Linked DNA regions of Homo sapiens. The protein of the gene in region 1 purifies or fractionates together with the protein of each later gene. This does not show direct contact. Each region holds a gene or a part of one and is shown in the gene's direction. Other genes may lie near its edges. The genes, in order: RANBP17, XPO6 and SCAI.

Region 1 (3,653 bases):
AAGCATGATAATACTTTTGGAATGGATAACTTATTTTAGAAATTAGACCTTATACAATCTTAGGCAAAGATGGGGAAATAGGGCCAAAGTGGGGAGTTGGAGGTTCAGGGGAAAAATATCACTGATCAGCCCTCCTGAAATAATGGCATAGACAAGTTGGAATTTGCAGGGAAATCTAGAAACCAGGCACATTTAGGTGCTAGAGTGGAACTATGAAAGGATTAGGGGTGAGAAGGTAGCTGGTGTTATGGTATAGAAGTCAGTAGAAGGCTGTTGCGTCTGCATAGCTATTGCTTCTGTAAGTGTGCTACCACCTGTTTGGTGGTGGGCTTGGAGATATTGGTCAGCAGGGCTGGTAGTTCTAGACACAAACAGGACAAGGAAGAACAAGGACAAAGTGAAACCGAGCAGCATTTCTACCTGTTACTCTTACCACCTCTAACCACAGCAACCTTTAAAAAGTCATGGCAGCTACTCCACTCCCAGCATCCAAATCTCACACAAATGTCTCTTTTGGCCAATTCTAGCCCACAACCATAAAGGGAAGTGGATTCTAAGAAACTTAATTCTTGTTAGCTAAGTTGACACAGTGTAAGCCACTATATTATACTTCTAAATTTTGTAAATTGAATTTAGTTTCAATTTTAGAAGCAATACTCATTTGACCAGGAAAAAGCAGAGGTAAGAAACATATATTACTTTATATTTTTTTAAAACATTATCAAGTATTGCCTAGTAACATACTTACTAGCACACATTTCAGAAACAGAAATCATTGATTGTAAATGCTAACTGTACTACAGAAGATTTTAGGGTGATCATACAAACATTTCTTTGTCTTCTGATGGTCAACGCAGAATTTAAGTACAATTTTTAAAACAATCATCTCTTGAGATCTTCTGAAGAAGGATCTAAGAAGAAAAAGGAAGTAATATTTACTGTACACTGCACCAAGAACTTCTGTGTGTGTTATTTCATTGAATTCGTATACCAAACCTGTGAGGCTCCTAAAAATGAAGTAACTCAAGATCAAATTCATATAAAAGGTCAAAAATTTGCCGAGAATTTAGGGTAATTTACATCTCAGTCAGGTTATCTTTTTCTCTTGACTTAGTTTTATCCTACTTTTTAAAATTTTTTACTGACAGGATAACACATAGAGTAAAATGAATAGTCTTAAGAGTACAACTTAATGAAATTTTACATATCTATGTATACATCTGTGTAATCACCATGCAGATAAAAATATAGAGCTTTTCCAATATAAGGATATTGATTTTTCCTTGGGCCTTTTGTACTTCCAGGTAAACTGCCATATGTATTTATATTTTTTATTACAATGAATAAAAAAAAATTCTTAAAAATATGCTGGGAGGAAGTGAACATTAGCAGTAAAGTAAAAATGTTAAATAGTGTGTCCCATAACTACTTTGAATGACATCTACTTATGTCACTTTCTGCTTTTATCCTGAAACAGGTAATCAGATCCTGTCCCTTGGGAGCCTCTCAAAAGATCAGATTTATCCAATGAAACTCAAGGGCATCTCCATCTGCTATTCAGCTCTCAAGTCTGCCTTGTGTGGAAATTATGTCAGCTTTGGCGTCTTCAAGTTGTATGGGGACAACCATTTTGACAATGTACTCCAGGCTTTTGTCAAAATGCTGCTGTCAGTGTCCCACAGTGACTTGCTAGTAAGCAATCATGCATCATGGGAGTGTTTGTATGAAATGTGAAGTAACACCACCACAGGCCTGGAAGTGTTATAATGAAGCCCAGGGAGTTAGCCTAGAACATTTTATGTTTTAAGACAGCATACTTGATCTAACTTACAGAATTTGGAAAACTATAGTGGCTTTTTTTTTTTTTTAGCATCTCTGCCTGATTATATAGAAACCAATATGTGCCCAATGTAGTAGCAGTAATTACTTGAGTAACATAGCCAAATCATGCTTAGGCTTAGTTCAGGCTTTCCCACCTGCTCCCACTCAAGGTTACAAGTAAAATCTGGAAGGCCTTTGTTAGTCAACCTGTGTAAGAAATGCTTCTTGATCTCCTAGTGGACTAGTGCATCATCTTCCACCTTTATAAACTAATCTTGGAATGGCTGCATCTCAAGCCAAAGAGAGGACTTCCTTGTAGTAGAATGGAATGATCATTGAAGGATATGTCTGTTAGACAGAAATTACAAAGTAGAAACTTGAGTCAAATCAGCCATATGTTAAAATCACCTCATCAAAGAGTTACTTCACTACAGTTAAAGTCCACCAAGACAACTGGTATGGTTCCAAGAATTTTTCTCTAATTTTTTTATTCTAATAGTCAAACAAACCTTCAACTCAGTAATTCTCCAACTTGAAGGTGCATAAGACTCTCTTAACGTGTGTTAAAAATATACATTTCAGAGCCTACACTAGAGCTTGTCATTTAGCGAGTCTGAAGTGGGGATCAGGAAACTGCGTTTTTAACAAGCACCCCAAGTGATTCCTATTGAGTTGGTCTTAACATCACTTTAAGAAATGCTCCTCTGGTTTCTCTTTTTTTCTTTTTTTTTTTTTAGAGGCAGGGTCTTGCTGTGTTGCCCAGCCTGTTCTTAGACTCCTGGGCTTAAGCAATTCTCCTGCCTCAGCCTCCCAAGTAGCTGGAATTACCAGCATGAACCTCCATGCCCAGCTTCTCTAATTTATCTTACAAGTGTGTTTCTTTGATACTGGTTTGGATTGCATTTGAGATTTTTCAGGTATCTTTCTCATGCACTTATCTTTTGCCTGTAGTGTATGGTAAATATTAAGCCCTTTACCAAATTATTATTTAGTTAGATGGATTAGCATTATATTAATACAACAGACTATGGTGCCAAATCCCATTATAACAGCAAATGTCTTTGTGTTTAAAAAACCAACAAAAAAAAGGTTTCCTAGCGACTGTTAAGCACTGTTCAGTGTTACAGTATTCCAATCCAGAAAAATAATTCACACAGTCTTCTAAATATCGTACTGCAGGGATTTTACTTTTAAGTGCTAACCATATAAGGTAAAGAGATCAAGCGATTCCTATCAGAACCCCTTTAAATGCTGGATTGGGACTCATTATGTCATTTGCTCTATATATTTATTGACCTTGTGTTTAAATAAGTTTACAATTTCCAGTATTATAAATGACAATTTTCACTGGACTGTAACATGTATTTTTCTTCTCTGTGGCTTGACATTTAGTATATCTCTGTGTTGTAGCAATACCGGAAACTGAGCCAGTCTTATTATCCACTCCTGGAATGTCTCACTCAGGACCATATGAGCTTCATCATCAACTTAGAGCCTCCTGTACTCATGTATGTTCTCACATCTATCTCAGAGGGACTCACTACTCTTGGTAAGGATCATAGAGGACATTGTTTCCATAGGAAAAACTTGATTATGGGCTTTTAATGTATGTGATTATTGAGACTATCATCCTACAAAGGGGGAAAAGATATTGTGAACCCAAACTGAAAGATTATAATTATTACTTGCAAGTGGGAAAAATGTATTTCTTCATATTTTGATACATAGTCAGTTATGTTTTAATCAGCTTTACTGAGGTATAATTTACATACAATAAAATTCAGTGACTTTAAGTGGATAGTTCAGTGAGTCCTTGTACAAATGTGTACATG
Region 2 (3,398 bases), on another chromosome or scaffold:
CCGTGCAGCACCTCGGTGGGAGCTGGGTGCTGCTGGCTCTTGGTGTCCATGAGGCCATCTTGTTGGAGCCTGACAGTGCCTGGGACCTCCTTCCCCATGGGGCTCACCTGTTCTCTTCTTCCTGTGTCAGGTGACCAGGCCTCTCTCTTGCCTGATAGGAACTTCTGGGAACTTTTCCTTGTACCGTTTTATACTTGATGAAATTAGGAAAAGAAATCGCTTTCTCCCTGGTCCTCTTGGGGTTCTTGACCTGAGTCCTCTGTGAAGCAGCTTGTCCACGGCTCCACCGTAGTGCTCAGATGCACACACTGCTCTCACTGGTGCAAACCTGGCCGCCTGCTTTCCTCATTTGCCACGTGTGGCAGGGAAGCTTTTGCTTAGACTCATCCTGTTCTCCTTTGTCTTGGGGTCTTCCTTTTCTTGGGACTTGTTCTCTCCTAAGCCTCTTCCAGTTCACTTCAGCCCCTGGATATGTTTTTTCCTTTTTCTAGAGGCCAGATCCTAATACTTAATGATCAGCTTCTAACGACATCAATATCAGTCAACTTTTTGATTTAAAGCTGTGGTTTCAAAATCTAGTTATAGGCCAGGCGCGGTGTCTCACACCTGTAATCTCAGCACTTTGGGAGGCCAAGGCGGGCGGATCACTTGAGGTTAGGGGGTTTGAGACCAGCCTGGCCAACATGGCGAAACCCTGTCTCTACTAAAAATAAAAAAAATTAGTCAGGTGTGGTGGCACACGCCTGTAATCCCAGCTGCTTGGGAGGCTGAGGCACAAGAATCTCTTGAACCCGGGAGGCAGAGGTTGCAGTGAGCGGAGGTTGTGCCACTGCACTCCAGCCTGGGCGGCAGAGTGGGACTTTGTCTCAAAAAAAAAAATCTAGTTATATCAGAAGCACCTGGGGTACTTATTAAAAATGGAGAAACAGACTTCTGTGTTCTACCCAGGAAATTCTGGTTTGGCATTTGGGAGCCACTGATTTAAAAGACATCCCTTAGTTGGTTTTTTGAGGGTAAAATAAAAGAATCACCACCTTCCATTCAGTCACGCACTGTGTGTTTGAAGCCAGCTGCTTCTCAAGCCCCGGGCCAGGAACTGGGGCACCAGTCCCAGCCTTCACCAAGTCTTTCATGGTAGACAGGCCAATACAGCACCCTCTGTGGACCACATAGTGCCAAGCATGTGACATGTCTTGGCTCGAGTAAGCCTTCTAACAAGCCTCTGAAGTGTGGGTCCTGTTACTCCCCCATTTCACAGATGGTGGGGGCTCAGAAGGTGAGCAGTTCACAGAACTTGGAAGTGGTAGAGCTGCGAAGCAGGAGGCAGACCTGGGTGTTCTGGCCCCAGAGCCTGCACACACTCCCCAGAAGCAGATTGCTCAGGACAGAGGCGCTGAGCTGGCTGCTGGGGCCAGGAAATAGGAGGCATCTGTGCAGACTTTGGGAAGAGGCAGGCTTTGAATGGAGTTCTGGAAGAGGAATAGTGGTTGGGCAGGAAAATGAACTTGGTCCTGCTCATGGCTCTGCTGGGGCTTGCTGGGCCTGTTTGAGTCCTCACCGGGACCTACACTGAAAAAAAAAGCAGGGTCTCACCGTGTGCATGATGGCGGAGGTCAGGGCCTCACTTCTGGCCCAGGGCCTTCCATGGCCCACGCTGCGCCCAGTGGGACAGGCCTTGGGACTGTGTTTGCTGCTGCTCGGGTGGCTCTCGAGGGGCAGGGGCGGCCTGGAGCCCCGTGGGTAAAGGTTCTGCAGACATTGCTCGGTGTGCGCGTCACCTCAAGGGGCCATGGTGAAGAAGAGGGCTGTCACCACAGCCATGTCTGCGTTTGAGGGGCCGGACTCAGGAGCAAGTGTGCTGGTCTCTTCAGTGTGAGCTGGGGCCAGCTTCTTCATGGTGCAGCGCTTTGGTCTTTCTGTCCTTAGACTAGTGGTTCTGGTAGGGCTTGGTGGCAGCCTTGTGGTGAGGACTCAGTGAGTTGATGTCTGTATGTTGATTGCAGCAGTGTCTGGCACCCGAGAGGCCCTAGGGACGTATTCCTCTTGTTCTTTTTCTCCCACAGCGCCTGGCACAGAGTCTCTGTGACACGCAGTGCAACAGTGAATAGAAGTTTTGAGTTTTAGAAAGTGCTCCCCTATCTTCAGTGCACACTCTGGGATGGAAGTAGCTGTTGGGGTCTGGTGGGTGGGTGACCTGGTGTGTTGTTGGCTGCAGCTATGCCCCTGCCTTCCAGGACCTGCCCTCATTCACCCAGAATGTGCACAGGCTGGTCAACGACCTGCGCTACTACAGACTCTGCAACGACAGCCTGCCCCCTGGCACTGTGAAGCTCTAGGCCTGCTACTGCCTGGGGACACGGACTTCTGCTGCTGCCACCTGCGCCAGCCCTACCTTCCACCACAGATGTCTCCCAGATGGGCCTTGGTCACACTCCTTGGCTTCTCCCACCGCAAGCAACGCTGCCTGCCTCTGCCGCTCCTCCACATCTTGCCGCTGCCCAGCAGAGCTGGCTTCTGGGTCCACCTGAGCACTGGACGGTGCTCCCAGGGCGTTGGAGCAGGCGGAGGGGTGTGTGGCCAGGTACTAGGAGGCACCAGGAAATCCCGCGGGGTGGCCCATGCAGACCAGGCGCACGTGGCTCATGGGGCAGAATTGCCAAGGACAGCTCACGACAGTGCCACCTTCTCACCATTCCAGCCAAGGAGAGATGTGACGTTGGAACTGCTCTGGCACTTCTGTCAAGCCTCCCCCGCCCCAATTGCCTTGAGATCTCTGCTCTTTGTCAGAGATTTGCAAAGACTCACGTTTTTGTTGTTTTCTCATCATTCCATTGTGATACTAAGAAACTAAGAAGCTTAATGAAAAGAAATAAAATGCCTATGTTGTTGTTCTAGAAACCCTGGCTGGGGAGCTGCTTGCTACTCACAGCCTCCTTGAGGCCGGGTTCCCAGCAAGGTGCATCCTGATGGGAATGTGGGCAGTGCGGCTTGGAGTGGGCTGGCTCCTGGCGTCTCCCACCTTCTAATGGCATCTCCCTGACTGCTCTTACTCAGCGAGGGGAGGGGGTCTCACTGACAGTTGGCCAGATGATGGAGGGAGGCTGCAGTCTGGGAGGGGGTCTCACTGATGGTTGGCCTGGTACTGGTGGAGGCTGGAGGCTGGGAGGGGGTGTTGCTGATGGTTGGCCTGGTGGTGGAGGGAGGCTGGAGTCCAGGCTGCCTGACTCCTGTGGCCCCTGTGGCACCCACTCCCCCTGCCCCCCAGGGTGGGAAGTGTGGGCTCCACCTCCCCCACCTGCTAGGGAATAGATTCCTTCCCACGATGTGCAGCAGGACCTGGCCCTCCGTGGCCTGAAGTCTCGCTGGAGGACAGGGAGGTGGGGTCTCATGATGGATTG
Region 3 (3,653 bases), on another chromosome or scaffold:
TATACTCTAAATTTATTTATTTTTTTTGAAACAGAGTCTTGCTTTTGTTGCCCAGGTTGGAGTGCAGTGGGGCTATCTCGGCTCACTGCAACCTCCGCCTCCCAGGTTCAAGCAATTTTCCTGCCTCAGCCTCCCGAGTAGCTGGGATTACAGGTGCCCGCCACCATGCCTGGCTAATTTTTGTATTTTTAGTAGAGACGGGGTTTCACCATGTTGGTCAGGCTGGTCTCAAACTCCTGACCTTGTGATCTGCCTGCCTCAGCCTCCCAAAGTGCTGGGATTACAGGCGTGAGCCACCGCACCTGGCTATTATTTTTAACTTGGTTTTCATTTCTGGCATAGAGACTAATTTGGGTCTAAGTTATTCCCATTCCTGCTTTGATTTGCTGATTTTTCAAACCTGAAGTCCAAAGTTACTGTTTTTGGGGTTTGGGGACTTGGGGAGTATTTTACTTTTTTTTTTTTTTTTTTTTAAGAGACAGAGTCTTGCTTTGTTGCCCAGGTTGGGGTGCAGCGGTACATTCATGGCTCACTGCAGCCTCAAATTCCTGGATTCAGGCAATCTTCTCACCTCAGCCTCCCAAGTAGCTGGGACTACAGGCATGCGCCACCATGCCTGGCTAATTTTCTTTATTTTTTAATTTTTTGTAGAGACATGGTCTCACTTTGTTGAGCAGGCTGGCCTCAAACTCCTGGGCTCAAGTGATCCTCCTGCCTCAACCTCCCAAAGTGCTAGGATTACAGGTGTGAGCCACTGTACCTGGCCTGTTTACTTTTTAAAAATTTTTTTGTTTGTTCTTTCAAACAGTATTTCAGAAAGCTTGGGAAAAGTTACCCTGGAAAGATTTCCTTTGCTAGTGGGTTTTCATTTTCAGGTAAAGACTGCTTTCCTTTTTTTTCAGTATCTTAATAAACTTCATAGCTTTCCTTTAGTAACAGTGTTCATTGAACTACAGCAATAGACTATCTTCGGTTTTCTGACCTCTTGTTTCAATTCCCCTTAAGTCCTGTGCCAGTTATGCTCCTACCAACACAGAGTTTCCTGTCCTCTAATGTTTAAAATAGTATTTACTGTTCTGAGCTTTATCCTCCCCCGTTAAGCATAAAGAACACTGGTCTGAGAACTAGGAGACCTAAGTTCTAGTCCTGGCTTTCCTGGTAACTTAAGCGTTATGCCCTTTGACAACTGTCTTCATGTCTCTGCTTGTTAGCACTCTCATCTGTAAAATGAAGAGGTTGGCCCAGGTCTTCTCCAACTCTGATTCTGTAATTTGGACTCTTGGTTCCAAAAATATTGATTTCCCCACTCCAACCACCAAGAGAACTATTTACCCTGTTTGTAGTGTACACAACCTTTTCTTTTGTAAGTCATATTTACCTAGATTTTGTTCAAGAAAATCTGGGTCCCACTTAGCTGTTTTAGAAACTAGTACAGACAGAGACTCTCCTGAGGAAATTAGAGCTTTTATGATTAGAAACATGCTTGTCTAAAAATGAGGGTCTTAGAAATCACAACATTGACCCTTATGATGTTGCCCCTTAAGCTAATAGTGTAATTCCTTACTGGTAGTTAAAAATCTAAAGTGGACTGAAGTGATCTTGAATCTTCAAAGAGAGGAAAACTGTGCTGGAAAATGTTATTGTTTCATTGATGCCTTCAAAAAAATGCGTATTAAACAAAGACTATACTCCAGATTTTCTTCTGGGCATTGGGGAAGCAAACAAAATAGACTTAAAAATCCTCATGTTCATGAAGCTTACATTCTAGTAGAAGGAGTAAGGCAATAAACATAAGTAATTTATGTTAGAAAATGTTAAGTAGGATGGAAAAGTGTAGATTATGGTAAGGTAAATCTTTTGTTTGTTTTCTTAAGAGAAGAACAATGTTTAAAAGAGTGATCAAGCAGGGCATGGTGGCATGACCCTATTAGTCCCAGCTACCTGGGAGGCCGAGGTGGGAGGGTCACTTGAGCCCAGGAGTTTGTGGCTGCAGTGAGCTGTGATTGCACCACTGCACTCCAGCCTGGATGGCAAAGCAAGACCTCGTCTCTGGAAAAAAAGAAAAGAAAAAGTGATGATCAGGGTAGGCTTCATTAGGAAGGTCACATTTGCATGAACACTTTGCCTTTTCTTTCTTTTTATGAAAGTTTTAAACATAGTTTTTTTGTTTTTTGTTTTTGAGACGGAGTTTCACTCTTGTTACTCAGGCTGCAGTGTGGTGGCAGGATCTCAGCTCACTGCAACCTCCACCTTCCAGTTTCAAGTGATTCTCCTGCCTCAGCCTCCCCAGTAGCTGGGATTACAGGCATGTGCCACCACACCCAGCTAATTTTGTGTTTTGAGATGGGGTTTCACCATGTTGGTCAGGCTGGTCTCGAACTCCTGATTTGAGGTGATCCGTTGGCCTCGGCCTCCCAAAGTGCTGGGATTACAGGCATGAGCCACCACGCCCAGCCTAAACATACAGTTTAATAAATCCTCCTTGTACCTTACCCAGCTTCTGTATTTCTTTAATCAAGGGAGAAGAATTATCTAAAAGGACAGTTGCCCAATGGGCTTGAGCTGATGATAGTGGCAAAGAATTTCATTTTTTAAAAATGCATACCACCTGCCCTTTATAAAAAAATTTAAACCCTAATGTATTTAATTTTATAATTCATAAAAATTTAAATATTGGAACTAAGAACAGAGCAAAGCAAAGGGAAAAAGCACTCCTTTGTTTTCAAATTGCACAAACTGTCCCTGGAGATTCTGATAGTCTCTCATCTCTCTTAACTATCACTGTAAACAACATAGAAAGCATAAGACTGCAAGAAGTCAGTTATACACAAAACAAAATGAAGCACAGTGGAATTTTCTCTTTCTTTATCTGTATATTTCTGAAGTTGGTAAAGCAACTATCTTCTCTATTTTACAGAAGAGAAAGCTGAGACCCAAAAAGCTATTCATAGTGATAGAGCTAGAACTAAAACTCAGATCTCCTCATCTCAGCCCAGTCTTCTCAGTAGCTCAGACTGCTTTCTATAATGAACAAGAAAGAATAATTAGGGATTTGTATTTTGGCACAAAACAGTATCAAATTTTTATTGTAAAAATCCACAAATCTGACATTTTATCTTTTATTCTAGCCAGGATGTATTCTTCATTTGCATGTGTGTGTTTCTCTTAGAAAGTGGTGCTCTCAAACCTTTCAAAGCACAGAATTTATTGTACCCTCTTTATTTTTACCAAATTGAAACGTTTCAGGATTTCAGAAGCAAAGTGCAATCCAATTGTGGCTGGAGTTTTCCTGATAGAGGATCCGGGTGGTTCCCTCCCCTCCAACTTCTGGCTACTGCCCTTTATTTCCTTTGTGCAATAGAATTCCCTGAAACAGATTATGTCGTAATTATACTGATTTAGTCAGGATAATGGGAAAAGCGACAAATCGGATTTATGTATTAGGTATTATGGAGCTTTCTTTAGCACTCTCCTCCAAGTTTAATCTCTGACATGTGTGATATAGTAACTTTCTGTCTCTGAGAAGCAGTTTGGACCCAGCTGAAAAATTTTATTTATGGAGACTTGTAATCAGCCTGATATACAGAGAACACTCTGGACTGGAAATATAGTCAGGTACCAAGGTCTGCTAATTTGGCCATTGCCAGTGATTC

Evidence for each region.
Region 2: the proteins of RANBP17 (region 1) and XPO6 fractionate together in Homo sapiens (co-fractionation; one large-scale study listed by BioGRID). This does not show direct contact.
Region 3: the proteins of RANBP17 (region 1) and SCAI fractionate together in Homo sapiens (co-fractionation; one large-scale study listed by BioGRID). This does not show direct contact.

The regions. Positions count from the first base shown.
Region 1 is NC_000005.10:171,239,451-171,243,103, forward strand, and holds part of RANBP17 (ran-binding protein 17), read left to right. Parts: intron 1-1,477; coding exon 1,478-1,692; intron 1,693-3,231; coding exon 3,232-3,370; intron 3,371-3,653. UniProt on the Homo sapiens protein: May function as a nuclear transport receptor.
Region 2 is NC_000016.10:28,097,476-28,100,873, reverse strand, and holds the end of XPO6 (exportin-6), read left to right. Parts: intron 1-2,234; coding exon 2,235-2,336; 3' UTR 2,337-2,898; downstream 2,899-3,398. UniProt on the Homo sapiens protein: Mediates the nuclear export of actin and profilin-actin complexes in somatic cells.
Region 3 is NC_000009.12:124,947,880-124,951,532, reverse strand, and holds part of SCAI (protein SCAI), read left to right. Parts: 3' UTR 1-3,653. UniProt on the Homo sapiens protein: Tumor suppressor which functions to suppress MRTFA-induced SRF transcriptional activity. May function in the RHOA-DIAPH1 signal transduction pathway and regulate cell migration through transcriptional regulation of ITGB1.